Regions from separate parts of the Homo sapiens genome. Here region 2 is linked to region 1. The links come from fine-mapping of genetic effects on gene expression. A gene starts in region 1. The other region holds a variant in brackets. All regions are shown on one strand. Distances are between the middles of the regions.

Evidence for each region. PIP is the estimated chance that this variant, and not a neighbour inherited with it, causes the effect.
Region 2: its variant is fine-mapped to the expression of PSG8-AS1 in prefrontal cortex (ROSMAP, PIP 0.95).

Annotation. Positions count from the first base shown.
Region 1 is chr19:42,818,653-42,831,425 of GRCh38, forward strand. It overlaps PSG8-AS1 (PSG8 antisense RNA 1), which reads left to right and starts at 3,211. Exons shown (of 4, transcript NR_036584.1): 1 at 3,211-3,261; 2 at 4,161-5,123; 3 at 6,280-6,692; 4 at 7,781-8,226.
Region 2 is chr19:41,836,366-41,849,138 of GRCh38, forward strand. LYPD4 (LY6/PLAUR domain containing 4) reads right to left here and starts at 8,318. Exons shown (of 5, transcript NM_173506.7): 1 at 7,213-8,318; 2 at 2,854-3,040; 3 at 2,516-2,659; 4 at 1,570-1,896; 5 at 709-980. The coding sequence starts at 2,920. The coding sequence ends at 778. DMRTC2 (DMRT like family C2) reads left to right here and starts at 8,677. Exons shown (of 9, transcript NM_001040283.3): 1 at 8,677-8,736; 2 at 11,060-11,287; 3 at 11,371-11,516; 4 at 12,087-12,163; 5 at 12,430-12,610; 6 at 12,765-12,773. The coding sequence starts at 11,064. The variant CAAAAAAAAA/C (reference allele first, on the strand shown) is at 6,399.

The DNA.
Region 1 (12,773 bases):
TGTGAGATTTCACTGAAGAACCAGCTTCCACCCAGTCCTTCACATTGTTCTCTTTTGGTAGTTTCTTGTCATTTCCTCCTTTTATTATCAATAGAGCTGCTGTGAACATGCATGTACAAGTTTCTGGGTGGACATATGTTTTCATTTTTATTGGGGGGGGTAGACATCAAAGAATAGAATTGCTGTGTTGTATGATGAGTCTGTGTTCTAACATTTCAGAAGCTGGACTTCAACTGCTTCCTGATTTCACCTTCCACACCATTTCTGTAGTGAGGCCCACTCCTTGGCCTTATAAGACCTGAATTAAGTTAGGTGCCCAGAGCCGTTCTGTCATCGACTCTGTTCTTTCCCTTGCTAGCCTGTGTAATAATTGGCAATCAGACCTTTACATGAGCAATGGTTTCATATGTCTCCCCAACTATATTACAAGTTCCACAGGGGCAGGGCTATGTCTATCTCCTTGACCTCTGTATCTGCGATGCCTGGCAGAGGGCTATGAACACTGGTTACGCTCCATAAACACTGGGAGACAAAGAAGGGTGTCAGTAGAGTTAGTTTTTTTGCTTTTTTACCCCCAGAACTCTTAGAAAATAATTTGAGCTATTCCTTCAAGGAAGTCCTGGGGCAGGTGATCATTCATAGATGACATGAGGGAGTGCACAGCACATGAGTTTGCAGGAAAATGCAAACCCCACGTTGAAATTTGATCCCCAATGTTGGAGATGAGGATTTACAGGGGGGTGTTTGGGTCATGGGGGCGGATCCCTCACGAATGGCTTGGTGCTGCCCTCATGGTAATGAGTGCGTTCTCTTTTCAGTCCTGCAAGAGCTGATTGTTAGAAAGAGCCTGGCACCTTCCTCTCCTCTTTCTCTTGCTTCTTCTCTCACCATGTCATCTGTGCACACAGCAGCTCCACTTCCCATTCCACCATGAGTGGAAGCTCCCTGAGGCCTCACCAGAAGCATATGCTGGTGCAATGCTTCTTGTATAGCCTGCAGAACTGTGAGCCAAATAAACCTCTTTTCTTTATAAATTATCCAGCCTCACTCAGGTATTCCTTTATAGCAATGCAAAACTGACTGAGACAGGGTATCAGGAGACCTAGCTTTGCCTGAATCTGAGAACTTCATCAGGACTTTTGGAACAATTTAGCCCACAGGTCCAAGGCTGATTTTTGTCACAGTGAAGTTCAGGTAGTAAGAATTCTCACTGGTGGCTGTTGAGGATGGTGGTGGTGGGGATGGGTCATATGGAGAATTAGCAGTGGGAGACTAGAAATTAAAGTGGAGAAAGGGAAGAATTAAAAGTCAAAAACAGTGTGAGGGAGGAAAGCAATGGATATAACACCTCAAATCTTTATCCTTGAGAGGCCTTAAAAAATCTACTTAATAATAATCAGATGCTATTCTATAAGTACTTTGAGACTAGACATGTGATGACTTTTAGGAACCTGTACTGTGGCTGAAAATGCATGCAAATCTAGTTGACTCAGATCCAGTCTTAACTGGCTCATAACTTGCTTCATATGCATGACTGTACGTTAGCAAGGAAATGAGAGAGAATAACAGCACATCACATAGGCATGAAAAGTATTTGCAAAGCAGCAGTTCTCAAAAATGACATTTTGCAGTGTTTTCCAGAAGCAGATTCAGAAAACTGAAGACCAAAGTAATGATGGAGCCGTCTCATGCCTAGATGAGCAGAAGCATACCAAAGGCTTAGTATTTCCCCAAGTAGTAGGCACCTCAAACTTATTTAAGGAAAATACTCTTCTTGATGAAACAGATACTGCAGTCGAAGCAGGAATGTGTTTGGTGTGCTGCCTTAAATAGCATGGGTAGATGTTCAAACATGTTAGGACTCGCTGGCCCTAGGAAAGACCCGCAAGTAGATACTTTCCACACCAGGAAAGTGACAATGAAACACCAAACACCTTTTCTCCTCTAATTACCAAGGAAAATATTTCTTTCCCAATGGTGGAAGACAATAATGTTGGGAATGATGAAGTTTTCTGGAGTGTGAAGTGGATATGTCTTATAAGTTTAATCCACAGATTCACCACTTCATAAGTGGATAATCGAATTGTGCCTCAGTTTCCTCAGACTTGGGGATATTAAGAGAACCCTCAGTCACCACAAGGTGGGTACCAGCATAAGAAAAGAGTGTAGCAAAAGCCCAGGGGTGCATGTTCTTAAAGTGCCTAGTGTGGGATTAGAATGACAAGTGGTAGATGACCTACTTGTGCAGAAATTTAGAGTTATTTTGTGATTTTCAAATGATCATGGGTGCTTTCCATATGCTGTCCAGACTAGGGGTGCTGCAGCTAGAAAGGGAAGAAGGTTTCCATATTTCCTGAGATTGGAGTCACATCCTCTCACCAATGCACTCACCTGCTGACTAACCAGTGTACTTCTGGGAATTGCAAATGCATGAAATGGCACCCATTCTAGACTAGTCGCGGCAGTGTTGGTGATGGCCACAGACCAGGAACGACCTTGACGTTTATCCGTAGGGAACTGGGTCATGAGCCATGATCCACATCATGGATACTGTGCAGCTGTGGCAATGAATGAGGTATCCTTCTGTCTGTGCACCGGGAAAGGTTTCCAAGATACACTGCACAGTGAGAAAAACAAGAAGCAGAACAATGCACGGTGTGCTACCTCTTGCATTACAAAGGAGGAAATGTAAAATTAATTTACAAATGGCCAATAAACACATGAAAAGATGCTCAACATCACTAATCATTAGGAAAATAAAAATCACAACTACAGTGGGATACCACCTTACATCCTTTACGATGGTTGTTCCCAATAAAAAAAAAAAAAGGAAAACAGAAAAGAAAAGTGTTGGCGAGGAGGAATTGGAATGCTTGTGTAGTGTTTGTGGGTTTGTAATATGGCACAACAACTGTGGTCATTTCTCAAAAAATTAATCATAGACTTACCACAAGATGCAGCAATTCGGCTTCTGGTGTATTCCAAAAAGAACGGAAAGCAGGGGCCCCAGCAGATATTTGCATGTCTTTGTTCATAGCAGCATTATTCACAATAGCTAAAAGTTGGAAACAAGCCCAGTGTCCATCCATCCATGAATGAATAAACAAAAAGTGGTCTATGCGTACAAACAAATGGGATTCAGCTGTAACAAGAAGGGTGATTCTGATGTGTGCTTCAACATGATTAAGCCTTGAGTTCTTTCTGCTAAGTGAAATAATCAGACTCAAAAAGACAACTACTACATGATTCCACTTAACAGAGGTGCGTAACGTCATGAAATGCATAGGCAGAAAATGAAAAGGTGGTTGTCAGCGGCTGGAGGGAGGGGGAAAGAGGAGTTGGTGTTTAATGGGTACAGAATTCCAGTTGGGGAATATGAAAAAGTTCTGGGTGGGGATGGACAGTGGTGGTGGTTGAACAACAACCTAAATGTACTTCCTGCCACTGGATGTACACTTAAAAGTGGTTAAAATGGGCCGAGCGAGGTGGCTTGCGTCTAATCCCAGCACTTTGGGAGGTCGAGGTGGGCAGATCATGAGGTCAGGAGATTGAGACCATCCTGGCTAACATGATGAAATCTCCGCTCTACTAAAAATACAAAAAATTAGCTGGGCATGGTGGCATGCACCTGTAGTCCCAGCTACTCAGGAGGCTGAAGCAGGAGAAGTGGTTGAACCCGGGAGGTGAAGTTTGCAGTGAGCTGAGATCATGCCATTGCATTCCAGCCTGGGTGACAGAAGAGGAACCCTTCTCAAAAAAAAAAAAAAAAAAGACAGAAAAAAAAGAAAGGAAAAAAATGGTTAAAATGGTGAATTCTATGTTATATATATTTCACAATAATTTACAATAATTCCTATTGTTTTGCATAAAACAGCTGTAGAAAGCTTTGCAGGTCATGAACAGCACAGCTGGCCACTGGGGCTGGCGTGGGGCTAGGACCTGGGTGCATAGGGAACAGGGATGAGACACAGGCTCTTCATGCCTGCACACATATACAGATACACACAGATGGAAATTACTGAGCCATCTAAATACAACACCTATTCAAAAAATCAAACAGAAAAAGGAAATGTAATGGGGCTGAAGGATGAGGGTAGGTGGGGTGGCTGCTCAGGAGGACTGTGGAGGCCACATCGCCTAACCTTCGAGGCCTCTCTTAGCAGCTGGAGTGCATCCCGGGGACTTGGGAGCTCTGGAAAGAGGAGCAGGAAAGGGCCATGGCCGGAGGAGGCCTGAAAAAGATCATCTCTGCCACAGAGAAGAAGCTGGCTCGGATGCTGCTGGCCCCTATGGAGACAGGGAGACCCGGGGAGACAACTGTATTCATTCAAGGAGGAATGGGTGGTGATGCAAACTTGGGTGGAGGCCACAGGGTGCAGAAGACAGGACACAGCAGAGAGAGATGTAGGACATGGAAGGGACAGAAAGGAGTGACCACAGGACATAAAGGGGCAAGGAAAGTGGAAGCATGATAACATCTGCTGGGCATCCGGCTGAGGGGTTGGGTGCCTAGGGTGCCCTTCCCTAAGGGAGAACCCCAGGAGCAGATTCAGAGAAAACCGCCCAGCTCACTCCAGCAAGAATCAGAAAAGGACCGGTTAAAGGAGAGGGTAGGAAGGTCACCAAGCTCCAAGGGCCCTCATGAATCCGGCTTGGAGGCCACAGGGCCCAGGGCAAGGACAAACCACAGGCACAGGACAGCTCCGGTCAAGATCTTCTGGCTACTGCAGGAGGCAGAAACCACACCCTGCACCCTGCACTGCTGAGGCTGGCGCTGGAGTCCAGAAGCTTCTACACCAGAAGCTTCGGTCCCCCATCCCTGCTCAAAAAATTAAAACAAAAACAATAACAAATCGGTGTCATGCACCCTCTGCTTCCTGGTGCTGTTCGGGACCCTGAGTCTTTCACGGGAGCACCTGATGGGGAAAGCCTGGACCCGTGTCGGTGTCCCTCCTGCAAGGAGTGCTGGGAAAATGAACTTTCCAGCTTCCTCCTTGCGAAGGCAGAACATTCCCCATGTGTACTGGTGGCATTTAAAAACTGCAGGGCAGCCAGAGAACATGGACTGTGTTCCACCGGGAGAGTTCCTGGCGGGATGTCCCGGTGCAGAAGCCCGTCCCAAGGTGGGTATTTGAGCTGAGGAACTGAGAAGCCGGTTTCTGCCTAGAGTTAGAGATCCGAGAGGCATCAGCACATGGAAGGGAGGGAATCTACGATGCCTCGAGGGTGGGAGATCAGATGAACCAGGAGAGGCAGGGCCCGGGAGGAACCCCGGGGAGCAGCCTCCTTTAAAGCCTGGGGGAAGTAGCTTCAGAGAAGGTGGGGTAGGTTGGGTGGGGGTTGCTGGAAAAATATAATTAAGAAACAAATTTCTGCTCAGCCCAGAAACCCCCCTCACATCCATAGAAGTAAAAGAAACTTGTCTTATGATTGAGTAAGCATTAAGCCAAAATGTGATGCAATCTGCTAAGAGATGACAAAGACAGAAAGAAATCCCACCTTTGTATCCAGCCAAGCAGGTGCAACCCGTTACACACATGGTCTCCAGATAGATGGTGACTAGTTCCCAGTTGAGAGGACTCAACGGCACCATTTGTCACACGTAGTTCATCCTAAATTCACCCAGTAACTGTGTTGATTCTCTGTGTGGTTAATTGGCTTTATCCACAGGAAAAAGAAACCTCTCATCTATGACAGGAGGTAGTTTTGCAACTGGGAGTGAGATGCCCCCAGAACTGAGGTTCCTTCCTTCTCACAGAAACTGGGAGACAGGGGTGCTTTCTGCCCGGATGCCTGCCTTTCAAAGAGAGGTCTCCTATGGCCTTGAGGAGGAGAATTCTGGGTTGTGAGGCAGGCAAGATACTTATGTATGCTTTAGAAAGCTTTGCATACATCTTCAAGGGATAGAGAAAGAGTTTTCAATTACACCTCTTCTAAAAAAAATGATCTCAAAGTCCAGCCTAGGCAACACAGCAAGATCCTATCTCCACACACACAACAATAATAATAAATTTGCTGGACATGGTGGGGTGTGCGTGTAGTCCCAGCTACTCAGGAGGCTAAGGAGGGAGGATCACCTGAGCCCAGGATGTTAAGGCTGCAGTAAGCTTAGATGGCAGCACTGCACTCCAGCCTGGGTGACAGAGTGAGACTCTGTCAATGAATGAATGAATGAATAAATGAATGAATAGAAAATGCTCTGAGTGAAAAGAGGAGAGTCTCTTTATCTTTTTGCAACAGGCTAAACAAAGTTTTTAAAAATGTATATTTGCCTCACAGAGATTATTCCAGGAAAAGAAGTGGCCCTCAGTGTCAAAGGATGCAAAACTAACCTCTGAGTTCCTGGCAGGTTTAGCAATAAAGGAGGATGTTGCTGATCTCAGTACAAGCAATGTTAGAGAAAGGGGAAGATGGAAGTGGACAAGGACGAGTGAGTGGAAGGTGACAAATGGAAGCAAAGAAACGTATCCAGACCATTGAAGATGCTTGAGCGAGAAGAAAGAGGCGGTGGAGGGAATGGAAGCCCGAGGAAGTCATATGTTGCAATAAGGGGCCTCAGAGCACGTGTAGAGTGTGGAGCAGAGCCCTTGCAGAGGGGCTGTGGAAGGCTGGCAGGGTGCAGGTGGCCCCACTCTCCGTCACCCTGAGGAGTGTGTGGTCAGAGTTAAAGCTCAGTCTGTTTCTGGGATCAGGTAAGAGGTGAGCGTCCGGAGAAGACAGGCGGATCTTCAGATCCTGCAGACCTCCACCGTGCCCTCTGTCCCTCTCGACTGCTTTTTCTCCATCTCCATTGTCTGGCTCACATTGGTGTCACTTTTTCATTTCTCCCTGCCCGTCTTTTCTCTTTTCTCCTCTCTTTTTCTTAACCCTTGTACCTTTGGAAGTCCCACTAACAGAATTTAAACAGCTTTTCAAGTTGGTTTTTTGTTCCCAGAAATTGATTTTAGACTCTCCATGAATAATGTGGAAATCAAATGAGTATAAGCTGGTTCATCTCTCTGCAAATAAACAAATAAAATCTACATTCCAATGTTTCTTCTTCCAGAGTAGCCCGCACTTGATTTTTTTTTTAATTACTGTCACTTGCAATAGATTTTTAATTCCTGTAACCTGGCTACACAAATACCATGGGGCAAAAGCCTTACTTCCTGTGAGAGGAAACCAGGCTTGACTAGCCTCATGCTGGCTTTGAAGAAGTAAAATCAGGGGTTGATGAATTTGCATAGGGTAAATATCAAAGGTCAAAAGTAAACAATAGGTGGTAGAGGGAATACCCCAAATTATAAAAGAACAAACTGTTTAAGCCACAACAGAATTATCGTAGAAATAAACCACGGTCCTTCCTGCTAAAATATTCCACTTAGAATTGTAAAATATTCTTCTCAATAACTCCTGGAAGAGCCTACTCATAAATTAATGAGGCTGGGAGCAGTGGCTCACACCTCTAATTCCAGCACTTTGGGAGGCCTAGACGGGCAGATCGCTTGAGGTTAGGAGTTTGAGACCAGCCTGGCCAATATGGTGAAACCCCGTCTCTACTAAAAATACAAAAATTACCCAGGCATCGTGGCAGGCACCTGTAATCCCAGCTACTTGGGAGGCTGAGGCAGGAGAATCGCTTGAACCCAGGAGGTGGAGGTTGCAGTGAGCCAAGATGGCACCACTGCACTCCATCCTGGATGACAGAGTGAAACTCCATCTCAACCAAAAAAAAAAAAAAAAAGAAATTAATGAATGTAAGAGCATCTATGTTCCAAATGCAGTGTATTATTTTATGCAGGCTTTCACAAGCTCCAAAAGATTCACCGTGCAGAACTGGACGTTCTAGAGAAAGACCACGCCTCCTCCTGCAGGTAACTCTTCATTCAGGAAGCAGCTCTTGGCTTATCCCTGGGCTTAGTGGAATTGGAATACCTGACCATAGGACACCAAGGGCTTTAGGACCTGAGTGGCACATCGTGTCCTGGTGACATCTGAGTTACCTGGGGCGTGCACAGCAGCCTCCAGCATCCCAGGGAGAGCTGTGTATGGGGTCAGGCTCAAGCAGGTCCCAGGGCACCAGTGACCCAATGGGTGAATCAGACTCCCGTGGCACCTGCTCCTTCTGTATCTCCCTCTGCCATATATATGAGCTCATGGGAAGCACTGTAACCTCTTACAGAGGAGGAAAGTTCATGGACTTCTAGCTTCTAGAACTGTGATACAATAAACTCCTGTTGCTTATCTACTCCTCTGCAGTATTTTGTCATGGCAGCCCTAGCAAACTACTACAGGGACTGTGGGGGTTAGGATGACACCAAGCATCAAATGCCACTCCCTGTTCCATTATTATGTAATGTCCCTCTTTGTCTTTTTTAACTGCTGTTGCTTTAAAGTTAGTTTTTTTGATATAAGAATAGTTACTCCTGCTCACTTTTGTGGCCATTTGCATGGGGTGTCTTTTTCTACCCTTTTACCTTAAGTTCATGTGACACTTTATGGTTAGGGGAGTCTCTTGAGGGCAGCAGATACTTGCTTGGTGAACTATTATCAATTCTGCAATTCTGTGTCTTTTAAGTGGAGCATTTAGGCCACTTACATTCAATGTTAGTATTGAGATGTGAGGTACTGTTCCATTCATCCTGCTATTTGTTGCCTGAATACCTTGGTTTTATTCATTTATTTATTGTATTTGTGTTTTATACGTCCTGTGAGATTCATGCTCAAAGAGGTTCTGTTTTGATGTGTATCCAGGACTTGCTTCAAGATTTGGAGCTCCTTTTAGCAGTTATTGTAGTGCTGGCTTGGTAGTGGCAAATTCTCTGAGCATTTGTTTGTCTGAAAAAGACTGTTATCTTTCCTTTATTTATGAACTTTAGTTTTGCTGGATACAAAATTCTTGGCTGATAATTTTTTTTTTTTTTTTCTGAGATGGAGTCTTGTTCCGTCACCCAGGCTGGAGTGCAGTGGTGCGATCTGGGCTCATTGCAACCTTCGCCTCCTGGATTCACGCCATTCTCCTGCCTCAGCCTCCCGAGTAGCTGGGACTACAGGCGCCTGCCACCAGGCCCGGCTAATTTTTTTTGTATTTTTAGTAGAGACAGGGTTTCACCATGTTAGCCAGGATGGTCTTGATCTCCTGACCTTGTGATCCACCCGTCTTGGCCTCCCAAAGTGCTGGGACTACAAGTGTGAGCCACCGTGCCTGGCCTGATAATTTTTTTTTAAGGAGGCTGCAGGTGGGTATGCATGCTCATTTGAGGTGTTCTTCCCTTATTGAAGATTACTAAAATCACATGTGTTGAAAAGCATTTGGTATTATTTACTTAATTGATGAGTACCCATTTATTTTTACATTAATTTGATACCATGTATAAACAATATATAAACATAGGTATGGACATATACATATGTGATATGTGATACAGCATAGAACATATACTTGTGCACATAAAGATAGAGGGAGACAGAAATACTTCAGATTTTTGATTTTAAAACTTTATGCATGAACACATAAAACTCACTGTTAAAAAAAATAGCTGGATTTAAGTTGTGCTTTTGTAAATAGAAAAAGTTAACATTTATCTGAGGAAGCCCTTGCTGAGTTTTAGAGAAAGTAGGTAGTAAATTTACATCTCAAAGCACACACAAACACACACACACACACACACACACACACAGAGAGAAGGAGTTTGGGTGTGTTCAAGGAAGATTAAAAGTAGATGCCAAGGTAACACAAAAATGATAGAAATTTATAACAGGATTTTATAAGGAGACCAATTTTATTTCCATACATAGCTTTTATTTTGGTCTCTGTTTTCCAACTTTACTCCAGGAAACACACTACACAGGCTCCCTTCTTAAGTGCTGGTGGGCCACTGCACATGCAGACAGCCCACTTTAAGGGAAGAATCAGGGGAGAAGAGATGCAGACCCCAGAATTATGCCAACATACAAAAGCCTAAGTCAAAGGTCAAACCACACACTTGAAATCTCATCACCTGTTTGGCCCTGTTTTAAGTGTGCTTTACTTTCTTTAATTTCTGCTCTAAAGCTTTTAAATAAACTTTCACTCCTGCTCTAAAATTTGCCTAAGTCTCTTCTTCTGCCTTATGACACTTAGTTGAATTCTTTCTTCTGAAGAAGCAAGAATTGAGGCTGCTACAGACTTGTACAGATTTGCTGCCATTAATATAGTTTAGTGCCATTCTACATGATAGAATATATATATTCTTATATTTATATATATATATATATATAAAATTTATGTATTCATAGAGGCCTTGAATCTACATTCTTGCTGCACTTTATGTAAACAATCCAGGTATAAGACTAAAACTTATTTTGGAAATATATTGGTCCCATATGATTTCTATTTCATAAAAATGGGAGACAGGAGGGGGAAAATTATTTTTCAGAAGGAAACAACAGAAAAATGGTTATTACATTTTAGATCTGTTCATTTTTTTTAAATTTTGTTATTTACCTACAATTTGGACTGAATCCTAAATTTTTTCCTGGCTACAAATTTCAAAACTAATGGTTTCAGAATTTTCTTCCATTTTTCTTCCATTTTGGTATATTATAAATTAAAACTGTGCTTTTTAAATTTTTATCTTTTTTTAATTACACTTTTAAGTTCTGGGATACATGTGCAGAACCTGCAGGTTTGTTACATAGGTATACATGTGTCATGGTGTTTTGCTGCACCCATTAACCCATCATCTACCTTAGGTATTTCTCCTAATGCTATCCCTCCCCTAGTCCCCCACCCCTCAACAGGCCCCAGTGTGTGATATTCCCCTCCCTGTGTCCATGTGTTCTCATTGTTCAACTCCCACTTTTGAGTGAGAACATGCGGTGTTTGGTTTTCTGTTCCTGTGTTAGTTTGCTGAGAATGGTGGTTTCCAGCTTCATCCATGTCCCTGCAAAGATATGAACTCATCCCTTTTTATGCCTGTATTGAATTCCATGGTGTATATGTACCACATTTTCTTTATCCAGTCTATCATTGATAGGCATTTGGGTTGGTTCCAAGTCTTTGCTATTGTGAATAGTGCCACAATAAACATATGTGTGCATGTGTCTTTATGGTAGAATGATCTATAATCCTTTGGGTATATACCCAGTAATGGGATTACTGGGTCAAATGATATTTCTTGTTCTAGATCCTTGAGGAATCGCCACACTGTCTTTCACAATGGTTGAACTAATTTACACTCCCACGAACGGTGTAAAAGCATTCCTATTTCTCCACATCCTCTCTAGCATCTGTTGTTTCCTGACCTTATAATGATCACCATTCTAACTGGCATGAGATGGTATCTCACTGTGGTTTTGATTTGCATTTCTCTAATGACCAATGATGATGAGCTTTTTTTCCTATGTTTGTTGCTCACATAAATGTCTTATTTTGAGAAGTATCTGTTCATCTGCTTCACCCATTTTTGATTGGCTTATTTGTTTTTTTTCTTGTATATTTGTTTAAGTTTCTTGTAGATTCTGGATATTAGCCTTTTGTCAGATGGATAGATTAAAACTTGCAAGCTGAAACTCGACGACTTATGTAAACTTCTGGATAAATCATAGCAACTTATATATAAACAACCTTTGTGCCTGCTGATGTGTGGACTACACAAAAGGTACACATGAACACTGTATTCAGACTGCAATTCAGAAAAATGTGTCACATTGCCATTGCAATTGGAAGATGCTTCAGAAACTCTAGAAAACCTAGTCTATAGGGTTAGAGTGATGTTTGCCAAACGAATTGCTCTAATTGAAGCAGCTGTTGTGTGACTTTAATAAGGTTCCAGGATTATACTGTCCCTTTTTTGCTGTGACTTCCCTTTGCCCTTTTCTGATTTGTCTTCATCCCCTTTTCCATGGGGCATGACTTCTTAAGAATGAGCCTTCCTAGTGATGTAGGATGAGATGAAACATACAGTCACAAAGTCATGTCTTCTATGATGCTTTATCTGAAAGCTTTTGAAGAATTGGGGGGCCAGGTGTGCTGGCAGAGGCCTGTAATCCCAGCAGTTTGAGACTCTAAGGCAGGAGGATCACTTGAAACCAGGAGTTTAAGACCAGCCTGAGCTACAAAGGGAGACCACGTCTCTACAAAACATAAAACAAATCAAATTAGCCAGGTGCAGTGGTGCATGCCTATAGTCTCAGATACTTGGGAGGCTAAGGTGGGAGGACTGCTTCAGCCCAGGAGTTCAAGGCTGCAGTGAGTACACTCCAGTCTTGGTGACAGAGCAAGGTTGTGTCTCTAAAAGAAGAAAAAAAAAAAAAAAAAGGAAAGGAAAGGAACGGGGTAAACAGGAAAGCCAAAGATCTCGGGCATCTCCAGATGATTCCCTGAACAAATTGTTTTTTCTTGGCTTCAAAACCTTTCAAGATGTATATTTCTTTGTAAAAGAAGGACATGCCAATTGTAACTTTAAGTGAGCAATCCAAATCCAGCTCCTAAAACCGAAGTATTTTAACTCTCATTCTGATAATATTTATTTTCTGAGGCAAAGAAGAAAGACAAGATTAGATCAATTGTTTCTCTGCCCACTCCATCTCTTCCAACCTGCCTTCTCCCCTTTAATCAAATGTATAAATACTAAGCCTCCTGAAACCTCTTCAGAGAAAACACAAACCACAGAGGTTTTTTGCAACTCATGTATTCCCAGGGTGCACTATCAGGCTCTGGCTCAATAAAACTCAACTGGTCAAGACTCTTGCCTCAGTCAGTCATTCTGGATAACCACCAGGAGTCCTGCAAAGCCCTTCAGTAATCTATT
Region 2 (12,773 bases), 980 kb before region 1:
TCTCTCAATGAAATTGCCTCAGCAGGGACAGAAATCTGCAGGGGAGGTAAGGGAGATGCTACTTTGAGCAGGTTTCACCTCCTAGAGCTAGTTTCTTCTTTGCAAAATAGAGACAAAAGCTGCCTCACTGAGGTCTTGTGAGGATTAAATGATATCCTGTATGTAAAACACTAGCACAGATACTAGCACAGTGTCTGGCACACATAGTAGATACTCAGTAAGTAATCCCAGATAATAATCACCCTGGTGGTCAAACACAGTCGCTCCCATGTAAAATCCCAGCTACTGGGGAAGCTGAGGCAGGAGGATCACTTGAGGCCAAAGATTCGAGACCAGACCGGGCAACATAGTGAGACAGACCCCCATGTCAAAAAAAGGAAAAAAAAAAAAAAGAATTGGCCTGAGGAGGCTCTTCTCTAACTCATAAGACCCTTCCTTTTAAAGAGGAGGAAACTGAGGCCCATAAAAAGGGAGAGATTTGGCCAGGGTCTCGGAAATCAGACCCTGATTAGTAGCTGAACCCAGGCTGGAGCTCAAGCCTCCAGAGGAAGGGGAAGGAGAAAAGGAATATTTCAGCTCCCCCAGTTGCTGGGCAGGACACTGTCACTTTGCCAGGCTCCTCTTCCTGGGTCCCCACCTCCCTGGACATGCTTGGCCTTCCTCACACCTTCCTCACCCCTGCTCTCTCATGGACCACAGGACAATGCAGAAAGGGAACTCTGCTATTTTATTTGTTATGTGAAAGAGTCTGGGTGCTTGTCGGGTGCAGCTAGATGGTCAGTCCCTGAAGGCAAACAGGAGGCCTAAGACGACACCCCAAGCAGGATCTTGCCTGGAGGATGCTGCACCAACAATCTGAGACTTCTCTAAGATGTTGAGGACCTCAGTCACTTTGATGCTCCCAATATGATGAAAATCTGCTAAAAGCTGGTTATGTTCACGAGCACACCCCATGAGGAGGAAGGTGGTATTGAGAAACCCTGTAAGGAAGAGAGGGAGAAGTCAGGAACACTTTCAAGACTCAAGAGCCCTGCCTTCAGCCAGGTGCAGTGGCTCACACCTGTAATCCCAGCACTTTGGGAGGCCGAGGCAGGTGGATCACTTGAGGACTTAAGGCCAGGAGTTTGAGACTAGCCTGGCCAACATGGCAAAAACCCATCTCCCTTAAAAATACAAAAATTAGCCAGGTATGGTGGCACATGCCTATAATCCCAGCTACTTAGGAGGCTAGGGTATGAGAATCACTTGAACCTGGGAGGCAGAGGTTGCAGTGAGCCGAGATCGGACCACTGCACTCCAGCCTGGGCAACAGAGCAAGACTCCCATTTCAAAAAAAAAAAAAAGGCCCCTGCCTTCTCCCCAGAGGCCCCTCACAAACCAGAACACCTGCTCTCCCATGAGAGACTTAGGCACCAGGCGCCTTCCCCTTCCTCCTTGGAATTCATGTGCCCTGTCCCTTGCAACCCCAATCCCATCTCTGGATCCCACCAGCCTCTCTGAGATGTGAAGGTGCTGGACAATGCCTGGCAGAGAGTAGGCATTTGATAAACAATATTCCTCTCCTCTCACCTGCCTGAAATTTTAAGGTGGAACTGTAACACGTAGAAGCAGCCAAGGGGCAAGAATTAGTGGTGACAAAATTTGGGAGGCAATCCTTCATGTGCTCGCCCACACAGGTCGGGCAGCTACAGGACGCAGATGTGATAGACTTAGGAGTGCTGGCCTTGAGTTTCACAAAAGGCTCCAAATTGGTGAGGTTGTTGCAGAGATAAGACCGGCAGACGCGACTGTAGGAGGCAATGGACACTCCGGGTGGGGAAACAAGGTAGGAGATTTGCGCAGGGTAAGACGAAGACGAGCTGCAGCCTTTAAAGCCCACGACTCCCCTTGCAGTCCCTGAGGAGCAGAGGATTGAGAGAGCTCAGATCAGTGTCACTGGCCTCACCCAGAGTCCTCCCTCCCCCCAGCTCTTTCTGCACCCACCCTGCCTGTCACAATCTGTGCCTCCCTCCCCAACCCCTGTGTCCACTCAGTGCAGCTGCACAGGGCTCAGATGCTGGGGTCTCCATCTGGATCTCCTCATTCTTCCACTGCAGGACCTCCCCCAGCCCCCACTCCTCTCTCCCTTGTGCCCTCCTCCAGGGATCTGTCCACCTCCATTCTACCCACTTACCCAGCCCACAACACAACCAGTGGGGCCCTGCCCCTCTCCTGCCAGTGTCCTGACATTATCCAGATATAAATGATGGCCAGGCACAGTGGCTTATGCCTGTAATCCGGACACTTTGGGAGGCCAAGGTGGGCAGATCGCTTGAGCTCAGGAGTTTGAGACCAGCCTGGGCAACATAGTAAGAACTCCCCATCTCAAAAAAAATTAAAAAAAATATATATACATATATATATATATGTATAGTAACTATGTGGAATTCTAATCTACAGTCCCTCGGTGCTGGGAGTGGAGCTGGGGGTCAGAAGAGCAAGCAAAACGAAATTGATCAAACTTAGACTGCTTCACCTGTCTCAATGAACACTAGCGTCTCCTCGCAGCCCTCTTGCAGCTTACACACCATGTTCCTCATCAGAAGCCACTTCCAGTTATGGAAAGCAACAGCTCTGAATCTTGAGGCTGTTGCTTCATAGCACAAAAGAGCTCCAGCCCCTAAAAAGAGAATGCTCTCCCAGTCATTGGCCCCTCATATCATCTTCTGAGCCCGTTAACTGCCAACCAAGAGTTCAGCCCCCACAGGTCCTGTCCCCAGCGAAACCTAGATACCCAGCCCTCGTTCCACCAGTGACATGAATCCAGCCTCCCACCTTTCTGGGTCTTATAGCATCCAGCCCCACAGGACATACGAGGCAGAGTGGAGATGGCCCCTAGAAGGCAGAACAGCTGCACAAGTCTCAAATGCTGGGGTCCCATGGCCCTGTGTCTGGGTCCTGGGTGCTAGAGGTCAGTCTGGAATCAGTTTCAGTCTGGATCCCAAGCTCAGTTCCCATCAGTCCCCGAATTCTTTGTCCACCTGTCTCTGGGTCACTGTTTCTGGAGCAGAAAGTTGATTGCATCAGCTTCTAGGACATAGGCTCCCTCAGACCTTCTGGGTCACAGGTCTTCCCATCTCCACTGTCTGCCCTCCAGTCTAACCTGCACCATCCACCATCTTAGCTTCTCAAAGCAGGACTCTCACTCTCCCACTTAGGTCCTCCCATTGGACAAGGTGCTGAGCAGAGAATCCTGGCTTACTGATATGCAGGCTGTTCTCCAGCCAGAGGCAATGAGATCAGAGAAACAAATAGATGTTTCAAACTCGTGTGTGTTGTGTGTGTGTGTGTGTGTGTGTGTAAGTTAACATATCACTAAATAACCCTTGGTTCAACATGGAAATTTAAAAGTATTTAGAACTGAGGTCAGGAGCAGTGGCTCACGCCTGTAATCCCATCACTTTGGGAGGCTAAGGCAGGTGGATCACCAGAGGTCAGGAGTCCAAGACCAGCCTGCCAAAATGGTAAAACCCCATCTCTACTAAAAAATATAAATTAGCCAGGGGTGGTGGCACGAGCCTATAGTCCCAGCTACTCAGGAGGCTGAAGCATGAGAATCGCTTGAACCCAGGAGGCGGAGGTTGCAGTGAACCGAGATCGCGCCACTGCACTCCAGGCTGGGCAACAGAGACAGAGACTCCATTTCAAAAAAAAAAAAAGTATTTAGAACTGAATAATAATAAACATATTACATAACACACACATTCACACACAGACATAGACACAGACAGACACACACATACACACACACACACACACATAAGTGCATGTAAAATCTGCTGTAAACTGAATAAGGTCTGAAGTCTAGGTAAGAGTACTGTACACCAGCCCAGGCATCACGACAAAATGCCATCTCTACAAAAAATACAAAAATTGGCCAGGCATGGTGGCATGCACCTGTGGTCCCAGCTACTTGGGAGGCTGAGGTGGGAGGACCACTTGAGCCCCGGGGATGGAGGTTGCAGTGAGCTATGACTGTACAAACAGTATTGTACAAATGTCAATTTCCTGCTCATATACTATGGTTATATAAGATGCCCCTACAGGGAAACTGGAGGAAGGATCCAAGGGACTCTATGTACCACTTTTGCAACTTCCTGTGAGCCAACAATCATTTCAAAATTAAAGGGTTTTTAAAATATATACAGCCGGGCACAGTATCTCCCGCCTGTAATCCCAGCACTTTGGGAGGCCGAGGCAGGCAGATCACGAGGTCAGGAGATCAAGACCATCCTGGCTAACACGGTGAAACCCCATCTCTAAAAACACAAAAAAATTAGCCAGGCATGGTCGTGGACGCCTGTAGTCCCAACTACTTGGGAGGCTGAGGCAGGAGAATGGTGTGAACCCGGGAGGCGGAGCTTGCAGTGAGCCAAGATTGCGACGCTGCACTCCAGCCTGGACGACAGAGCGAAACTCCGTCTCAAAAAAAAAAAAAATAAAATAAAATATATACATCAAAATTTGAGACACAGCTAAAGCAGTATTTAGAAGTAAATTTATACTTTTAAATACATGTATCAGGAAATGTGAAGCATTAAAAAATAAATATATTCATGAACTAGTTCAAGAAATTGTATAAGGAGCAACAAAGCAATTCTCTCCTACCCAAAAAAGAATGGAAATAAGGATGATAGCAGAAATCAATGAAATAGTAAACAACAACAAACATTATTACAAAAAAGATCCATTCTATGAAAAGATTTAGTTAGTTCGCTGGCAAATCTGATCAAGGGAGAAGATGCAGGCCGGCACAGTGGCTCATGCCTCTAATCCCAGTGCTTTGGGAGGCTGAGCCAGGAGGATCCCTTGAGGTCAGGAGTTCAAGACCAGCCTGGGCAACACAGTGGCTTATGCCGGTAATTCCAGTGCTTTGGGAGGCTGAGCCAGGACTGCTCGAGGTCAGCAATTTGAGACCAGCCTGGGCAACACCTTGTCTATACCAAAAAAAAAAAAAAGTTTAAAAATTAGCCAAGCATGGGAGTGCCTGTAGTCCCAGCTACTCAGGAGGCTAATGTTGAAGGATTGCTTTAGCCTCAAATCACAAGGTCAGGAGTTCGCGACCAGCCTGGCCAACAAGGTGAAACACTGTCTCTACTACAAATACAAAAATTAGCCCGGTGTGGTGGTACGTGCCTGCAGTCCCAGCTACTAGGGAGGCTGAGGAGGGAGGATCACTTGAACCCGGAAGCCAGAGGTTGCAGTGAGCCGAGATCATGCCACTGCACTCCAGCCTGGGCAATAGAACAAGACCCTGTCTCAAAAAAAAAAAAAAAAAAAAAGTGAAGAAATGCACAAACCCAGCAATAACCAAGGAAATGCAATCTGTCAAATTGTACATCTATCAGACTGGTAAGGATCAGAAAGCTGGGAAAAGACAAGTGTTGGCAGGTATGTGGGGATAAAGGAACCCTTGGCCCCTGATGCTCATGGCATTATTTGGAGGGCTGGGGAATAAAACACTATTTCTGGACTCTGAGAAACAAAGGAGTTGAGAGTTCTGACCAGGATCTCAGGCCCAAAGCAGCATTGCAGGGGTCTGACACTACATGGTCAAATTGGGTTTATAAATACCCATTTCCAGTATACCCTACATAGGTATTACAAAAATGTCCACCTTCATCTACAAAGGAACATGCACAATAATGCAGCATTTTTTTTTTCTGAGACTGGGTCTCGCTCTGTTGCCCAGGCTGGAGGACAGCTGTGCTCACTGCAGCCCCCACCTGCCAGGCTCATGCAATCCTCTCACCTCGGCCACCCAAATAGCTGGGACTACAGGTGTGCGCCAACACACCCAGCTTTGTAGAGATGGAGTTTTTCCATGTTGCCCCAGCTGTTATCAAACTCCTGGGCTCAAGCAATCCACCCACCTCGGCCTCCCAAAGTGCTGGGATTACAGGCATGAGCTCCCATGCCCAGAGAATGCAGCATTATTGTGGTGATGGTAGGTTGAGACAATGGGAGCTTCCCTCTCTGAGACCAAGTGAATGCAAAACATGCTGGGGATGTACGCTATGGAATATCACGCAGGAGTTGGAAGAAGTTGATTAGATGTACACAGGATGTGAGGCAGGGTACAGTGGCTCACGCCTGTAATCCCAGCACTTCGGGAGGCTGAGGTGGGCGGATCACCTGAGGTCAGGAGTTCAAGACCAAGCTGGTCAACATGGCAAAATCCTGACTCTACTAAAAATACAAAAATTAGTCGAGTGTGGTGGTGGGAGCCTGTAATCCCAGCTACTCAAGAGGCTGTGGCAGCAGAAGAATTGCTTGAACCCAGGAGGTGGAGGGTGCAGTAAGCCAAGATCACACCATTGCACTCCAGCCTGGGCAATAAGAGTGAAACTCCGTCTAAA[CAAAAAAAAA/C]AAAAAAAAAAAAAAAAAAAAAAAGTACACATCATGACAGAATGACAGAATGTGTACATGGATAGATTGTAAAATCACAGTGCTGATTATTACAAATAGTATATAACATAATATCACTTGCATAAATTAAAAACTCAAACAGAGGTCGGGTGTGGTCGTTCATGCCTGTGATCCCAGCACTTTGGGAGGCCAAGGCAGACAGATCACTTCAGGCCAGGAGTTCTGGACCAGCCTGGTTAATATGGCAAAACCCCATCGCTAAAAAAAAAAAAAAAAAAAAAAAAAAAAAAAAAAAAAAAAAAAAACCCCAACAACAACACTACACACATCCTGGGAGAACACACACACAAACCAAAAGATACATATTAACCACCTTAGAATGAGAATTGCCTATAAGAAGGTTAGGGAATGAAAGTGGGGAATTGGTGGAAAATAACAGTGTAGGAGGGGGTACAAAGATCACTGACCTTGGCCTCAGAGACCCAGGTTGGAATCTTTACCCCTTCATTTACTAGCTGTCCAATTTGTTGAACTCAGAGCCTACTACCTTCTTTATAAAATGAAGTATAATACATCTCATAGGGTCATTGTGAAGATCAATAAAATTATTACCATAAGTATTAGGCAAATGCTAAGCTCTTTATAATCGTTGGTTACCCTGTTCCTCTACCACTATCCCTCCCTCCCACACACACTTCCTCTCACTCTCTCTCCACTACCTAAAGGATCAAGTTCAACCTCTTTAGCTGGCCTTTAAGCCTCCCCCGACCACACCCCACCCCACCCCAGATAAGCGCCACCCAACCTTTCCAATTTTATCTAGGACAGCTCCCCTGCCCAGCAGTCCAGCTAGAGGTCACGTCGGCCACCCTTTTCTGCCTGCAATGCCTCAGACACACATGCTCTGTAACCCAGAAATCTGTGGCCAAGAAAGGTGCCAAGACCCGCAGAAAAGCTGGGACACAGGAAAGAGAAACGAAGGCTGACAACAGATCTCACGGGGGTGAGGGAGATTAGGCCAATCAGAGAAGACAGCACACGCCAGCCTCAGATGCAGAACAACTGGACCTGGACCTAACAAGCTGAGTACAAGTGGAGACGCAACCAGAAAAGATTGAAGTGAAATCCTCAAGCAAAAAAAAAAAAAAAAAAAAAAAAAAAAAGGATGGAGCAGTAGTCAGAGGGGATGCCACCCCTACAAAAGACAAACAAATTGATGGAATGGAACCTTGCAGGGAGAGAGAGGACCAGCAGAGAGAGGGAGGCGTAGGAAAATGAGGAGTGGGGCACAAAGGTGGGGCTCTCAGGGAGAAGAGGAGTCGATTTTAGAGGGGGAGAAGAAAAGGACACAGAGCTGGCTGTACAGAGAAAAGGGGCCAAGGCAGAGAAGATGGCGGGATGGTGTGAGACGGAGTTCACAGAAATACCCAGAGAAGGCGACGATTACACAGAGGAGCCCCCAGAGGGGCGAACTCTTGAGGAAGATGAACGCGGAGGGTGGAGCCAGCCAGAAATTCAGAAAAACTAGAGGCGTCCCCGGTAGCGAAGGAAGCCGGGAAGGGGCCAGGCTATCAGGGCATGAAGCACGGGAGAAAATGGGTCCGAAGAGGGAGAGCGTCCGAGAGAAAAGGAAAATCAGAGATTAGGAAAATCACAACCGACACAAAGACAAGAAGAGACACAAGGAAAGGGGTGCAATCTGAGGAAGGAGGGCCCGGTAAGCAACCCGGTAATCACAGCGCTGGGAGAGAACGCATAAAAGAAGGGTAGCTCAGGAGTTGTGGGGCACCGGAAGAGACATAACAGAAAACGCAGGCCTCCACTCAGCAAAAACAAGCCACGCGCGAAGTCGAGGTACAAGGCAAGGGAAGGCCAGAAACGAGGCAACCCGTGCACAGACCGGGCTTGGTCAACGCCCCAGGGGCGGGGCCAGGCGGGCCGTTCCTGGGGGGCGGGGCCAGCCTCGGTCCAATAAGGGGTACTCGACGCCCCATTGGCCACCTGCCTCGAAAGGGGGAAGACAGTCTGGGCGGGCAGGACGTGCGGAGGGAGAGGCAGCGGTGGCGCGAGGCTCAACTCGAAGCGCTATTGGTGGGACTGATAGTCTTGTGCGCCAAGAAGCTGGCAGAAGGGAAGGGGCGGGACATCAGTTCAGGATCTCAAACCGCATTGGTCGTCTGCCTCGGCTGAGAGAGGCGATGCTTGAAGTTCATTGGTCTTTGTGAGACAGGGTAAGAAAAGCAGCGCGAGCTTGGCGGTTCCTCTGGCCACTTTCTCACAGTGTCTTTGGGCGTCTTCTTGACTGAATCTGACTCCATTGGAGGCTGTGGTAACCGTGAACTAGCTGCACGAACACGGTCCCTCCTGCCTTTCCGTCCTCCTCCCTCTTAGCCGGACTCCCTAACCCAGGCATCCCCTCTCCTCCCCCTCGCGCCCCTCCCGCCCTCGCGCCCCCTCTCCCCTTCCCTGCCTCGCGGGCCCCTTGGCGCGTTCCCGGTTCCCCACTCGCTCCCTGGGGCACGGGAAGGGGGGAGGGGGACATGCATGAAATTAATTGTTGGTAGTGGCCACAGGAGCAGGAAGCGCTGGACACAGTGACTTCACATGTTTACACAAAAACCTGAATAAGGTGTGAGCGCAAGAGAGACATTAGTGCCCCAAGGAGAAGGTTTTTGGCCCAGATCAGGGCCTAGCACATGACAGGGGCTCAGTAACCATTTGTGGAATGAATGAAGGAGTGAAGGAAAATAACTTGAAAGTGGGGCAGGTGGCGGGTGCGGTGGCTCATGCCTGTAATCCCAACACTTTGGGAGGCCGAAGCAGGCAGGTCGCTTGAGGCAGGTCAGGAGTTCAAGACCAGCCTGGCCAACATGGTGAAACCCCATCTCTACTAAAAATACAAAAATTAGACGGGCGTGGTGGCACAGGCCTGTAATCCCAGGTACTCGGGAGGCTGAGGCAGGAGAATTGCTTGAACCCAGGAGGCGGAGGTTGCAGTGAGCCGGGATTGCACTACTGCACTACAGCCTGGGCTACAGAGTGAGACTCCATCTCAAAACAAAAAAAAAGAAAGAAAGAAAGTGGGACAGGGGAGCCAAGCATAGTGGCTCCAGCCTGTAGTCCCAGCTACTGGGGAGGCTGCGGCAGGAGGATTGCTTGAGCTCAGGAGGTGGAGGCTGCAGTGAGCCATGATCACGCCACTGCGCTCCAGCCTGGGCAACAGAGCGAGACCCTGTCAATAAAAAAAAAAAGAAAGTGGAGCAGGGAATCCATGAGAATAAGGTAATTATTGGGGGTGCAAGAGAGGGTTCTGATTTAAAGGGGTACAAGAACAAAATAAGACTAAAGGAATGCAAGGAGGCAGTTGCTTTGCAGGGCATAGATGAGACTAAGAATTGAAATTGAACTAAGAATTGAAAGGGGCATAAAACTACTGGTAGGCATTGGATGAATGCATGAGAGTGGGGTGAGCATTGTTGAAGAGGATGCCAGGAAACACTGTTGGGACGGAACAGGGTGCTTGTGAAAAGGGGATGTAGGACTCGCTGAAGGGGTATGTGAGGACATGAGTAGGTTGGAACCTAGGATGTGTGTGTGGGTGGGAAAGTGTTTGGATTGAAAGAAAAGAATGTTTGAATTGAAAGAATACAGAATGTCGGGCGCAGCAGCTCATGCCTCTGATCCTAGCACTGTGGGAGGCCAAGGCAGGAGGATCGCTTGAGCCCAGGAGTTCGAGACCAGACCAGCCTGGGAAACATAATGAGACCTTGTCTCTATAAAAATAAAAAACAATTAAAAAAAAATTTTTTTTTTGAGACAGAGTCTTGCTCCGTCACCCAGGCTAAAGTGCAGTGGCGCGATCATGGCTCACTGCCAGCTCTGCCTCCCGGGTTCACGCCATTCTCCTGCCTCAGCCTCTGGAGTAGCTGGGACTACAGGCACCCGCCACCACGCCCAGCTAATTTTTTGTATTTTTAGTAGAGACAGGGTTTCACTGTGTTAGCCAGGATGGTCTCGATCTCCTGACCTTGTGATCCACCCGCCTTGGCCTCCCAAAGTGCTGGGATTATAGGCTTGAGCCACCGCACCCGGCCTAAAAATTTTTAAATTAAAAAAAGGGGGGACGGGTGCAGTGGCTCATGGCTGTAATTCCAGCACTTTGGGAGGCCGAGACAGGCAGATCACTTGAGGCCAGGAGTTCGAGACCAGCCTGGCCAACATGGTGAAACACCATCTCTACTAAACATACAAAAATAAAAAAAAATAGCCGGGCATGGTGGCTCTTGCCTGTAATCCCAGCTACTCAGGAGGCTGAGGCAGGAGAATCGCTTGAACCCGGGAGGTGGAGGTTGCAGCAAGCCAAGATCGTGCCACTGCACTCCAGCCTGGGAGACAGAGTGAGACTCCATCTCAAAAAAAAAAAAAAAAAAAAAGAAAGAACACAGAAGAGGAAGAGGAGAGGGGTTTCTGAAGAAGGAAGATACCTGAGAAATGTCATGGGGTAAAGAGGGGAGAAAGCTGGGAAAGAAGCCAGAATCAGGGCGGGGTCTAAAGAGGGGCAGGATGGAGACCTGCAGGTGTGGTCTCCAGGGCAGGAGGGTTGTTAGGGGCAGGCCCACCTGGCTATGCTTACCTTCCACTCCTGCCCCTAGATCCATGGAACCCAGTGACATGCCTGCTGGCTACCACTGCCCCTTAGACTCTGCCCCCTGGGATGAGACCAGAGACCCCCAGAGCACAGAGCTGATCCCCAGGAGAGCCATCAGCCGCTCTCCAACCTGCGCCCGCTGCCGCAACCATGGTGTCACCGCCCATCTCAAGGGCCACAAGCGCCTCTGCCTCTTCCAGGCTTGCGAGTGTCACAAATGTGTCCTCATCCTGTGAGTATGAGGTCTGGGAGGGGAGGAGGATGAGCCTCCTCCAAAGGGTGGCTGACCTTTGACTTGCAACTCCCCACTTTTAGGGAGCGCCGCAGGGTCATGGCTGCCCAGGTGGCCTTGCGTAGGCAGCAGGAGGCGCAGCTAAAGAAGCACCTGATGAGGAGAGGGGAAGCCTCTCCCAAAGCTCCCAACCACTTCAGAAAGGGAACCACTCAGCCACAGGTCCCCTGTGAGTGTCTCTGACCAGCGATGGGGCAGGAGTTTGGGTACAGGAGGCAGGTATGGGAAAAAGAGGCCCAGTCCTGCTGCTGAATTGGTGTACGACCTTGAACTAAGGGTTTCTACTCCCTCGGCCTCAGCTGTCCCAGCGTTGAGAGAATGCAGCGAGTTCTGTGGGTCAAAAATGGGCTAGAGGCCGGGCACAGTGGCTCACGCCTGTAATCCGAGCACTTTGGGAGGCTGAGGCAGGCAGACCACGAGGTCAAGAGATCGAGACCATCCTGGCCAACATGGTGAAACCCCGTCTCTACTAAAAATACAAAAATTAGCTGGGCTTGGTGGCGCATGCCTGTAGTCCCAGCTACTCGGGAAGCTGAGGCAGGAGAATCACTTGAACCCAGGAGGCGGAGGTTGTAGTGAGCCAAGATCACGCCACTGCACTCCAGCCTGGGCGACACAGCAAGACTCCATCTCAAAAAAAAAAAATGAGCTAGATGGGGGAGATGAGAACTGTCTGGGGTTGGGGTAGGATAGGGGTCAGGAGAAAGGGCTCATTAGAGCTCTCCCTGGTCCTTCACAGCTGGAAAGGAGAACATAGCACCCCAGCCTCAGACCCCCCATGGGGCAGTCCTGCTGGCACCGACACCCCCCGGGAAGGTAAGGAGAGGCTGGGGCCTGAGAAAGTGTCCCCCACCCTAGTTCCTACCCAGACCCTTTCTTCTGTGCCCTCAACACCTGGGTTCTAGCCCCAGCCCTGGTTTGCTATGTAATCTAGTCAAATCACTGCTCTTCTCTAGGCAAAATGAGGGGAAAACGAGGGCCTCCCAGCCCCAAAGTTTTGGGGTTCTGCCCGTATCCCAGAATACACTCAATCCTTTTCCAGCCTTGTACCCAACTCCAGCCTGTGCCCTCTGCCCCTGCAGAACTCCTGTGGGCCTCTGCTGCTCAGCCATCCCCCGGAAGCCTCGCCCTTGTCCTGGACTCCGGTGCCTCCTGGCCCTTGGGTCCCTGGACACTGGCTGCCTCCAGGCTTCTCCATGCCACCACCAGTGGTGTGCCGCCTGCTGTACCAAGAACCTGCTGTCTCTCTGCCTCCCTTCCCTGGTAAGATGATAATTCAACATTCATTCAACATATATTTGAGTGCCAATCTGCCACATATTGGAGAGGGAAGAGGAAGAAAGCATAGGTGGGGAGAGGGAGGAAAGAAACTATGACCTTGGCCCCTATACACTCTGCATTCTTTTATTCTTATTAGGCTTTGACC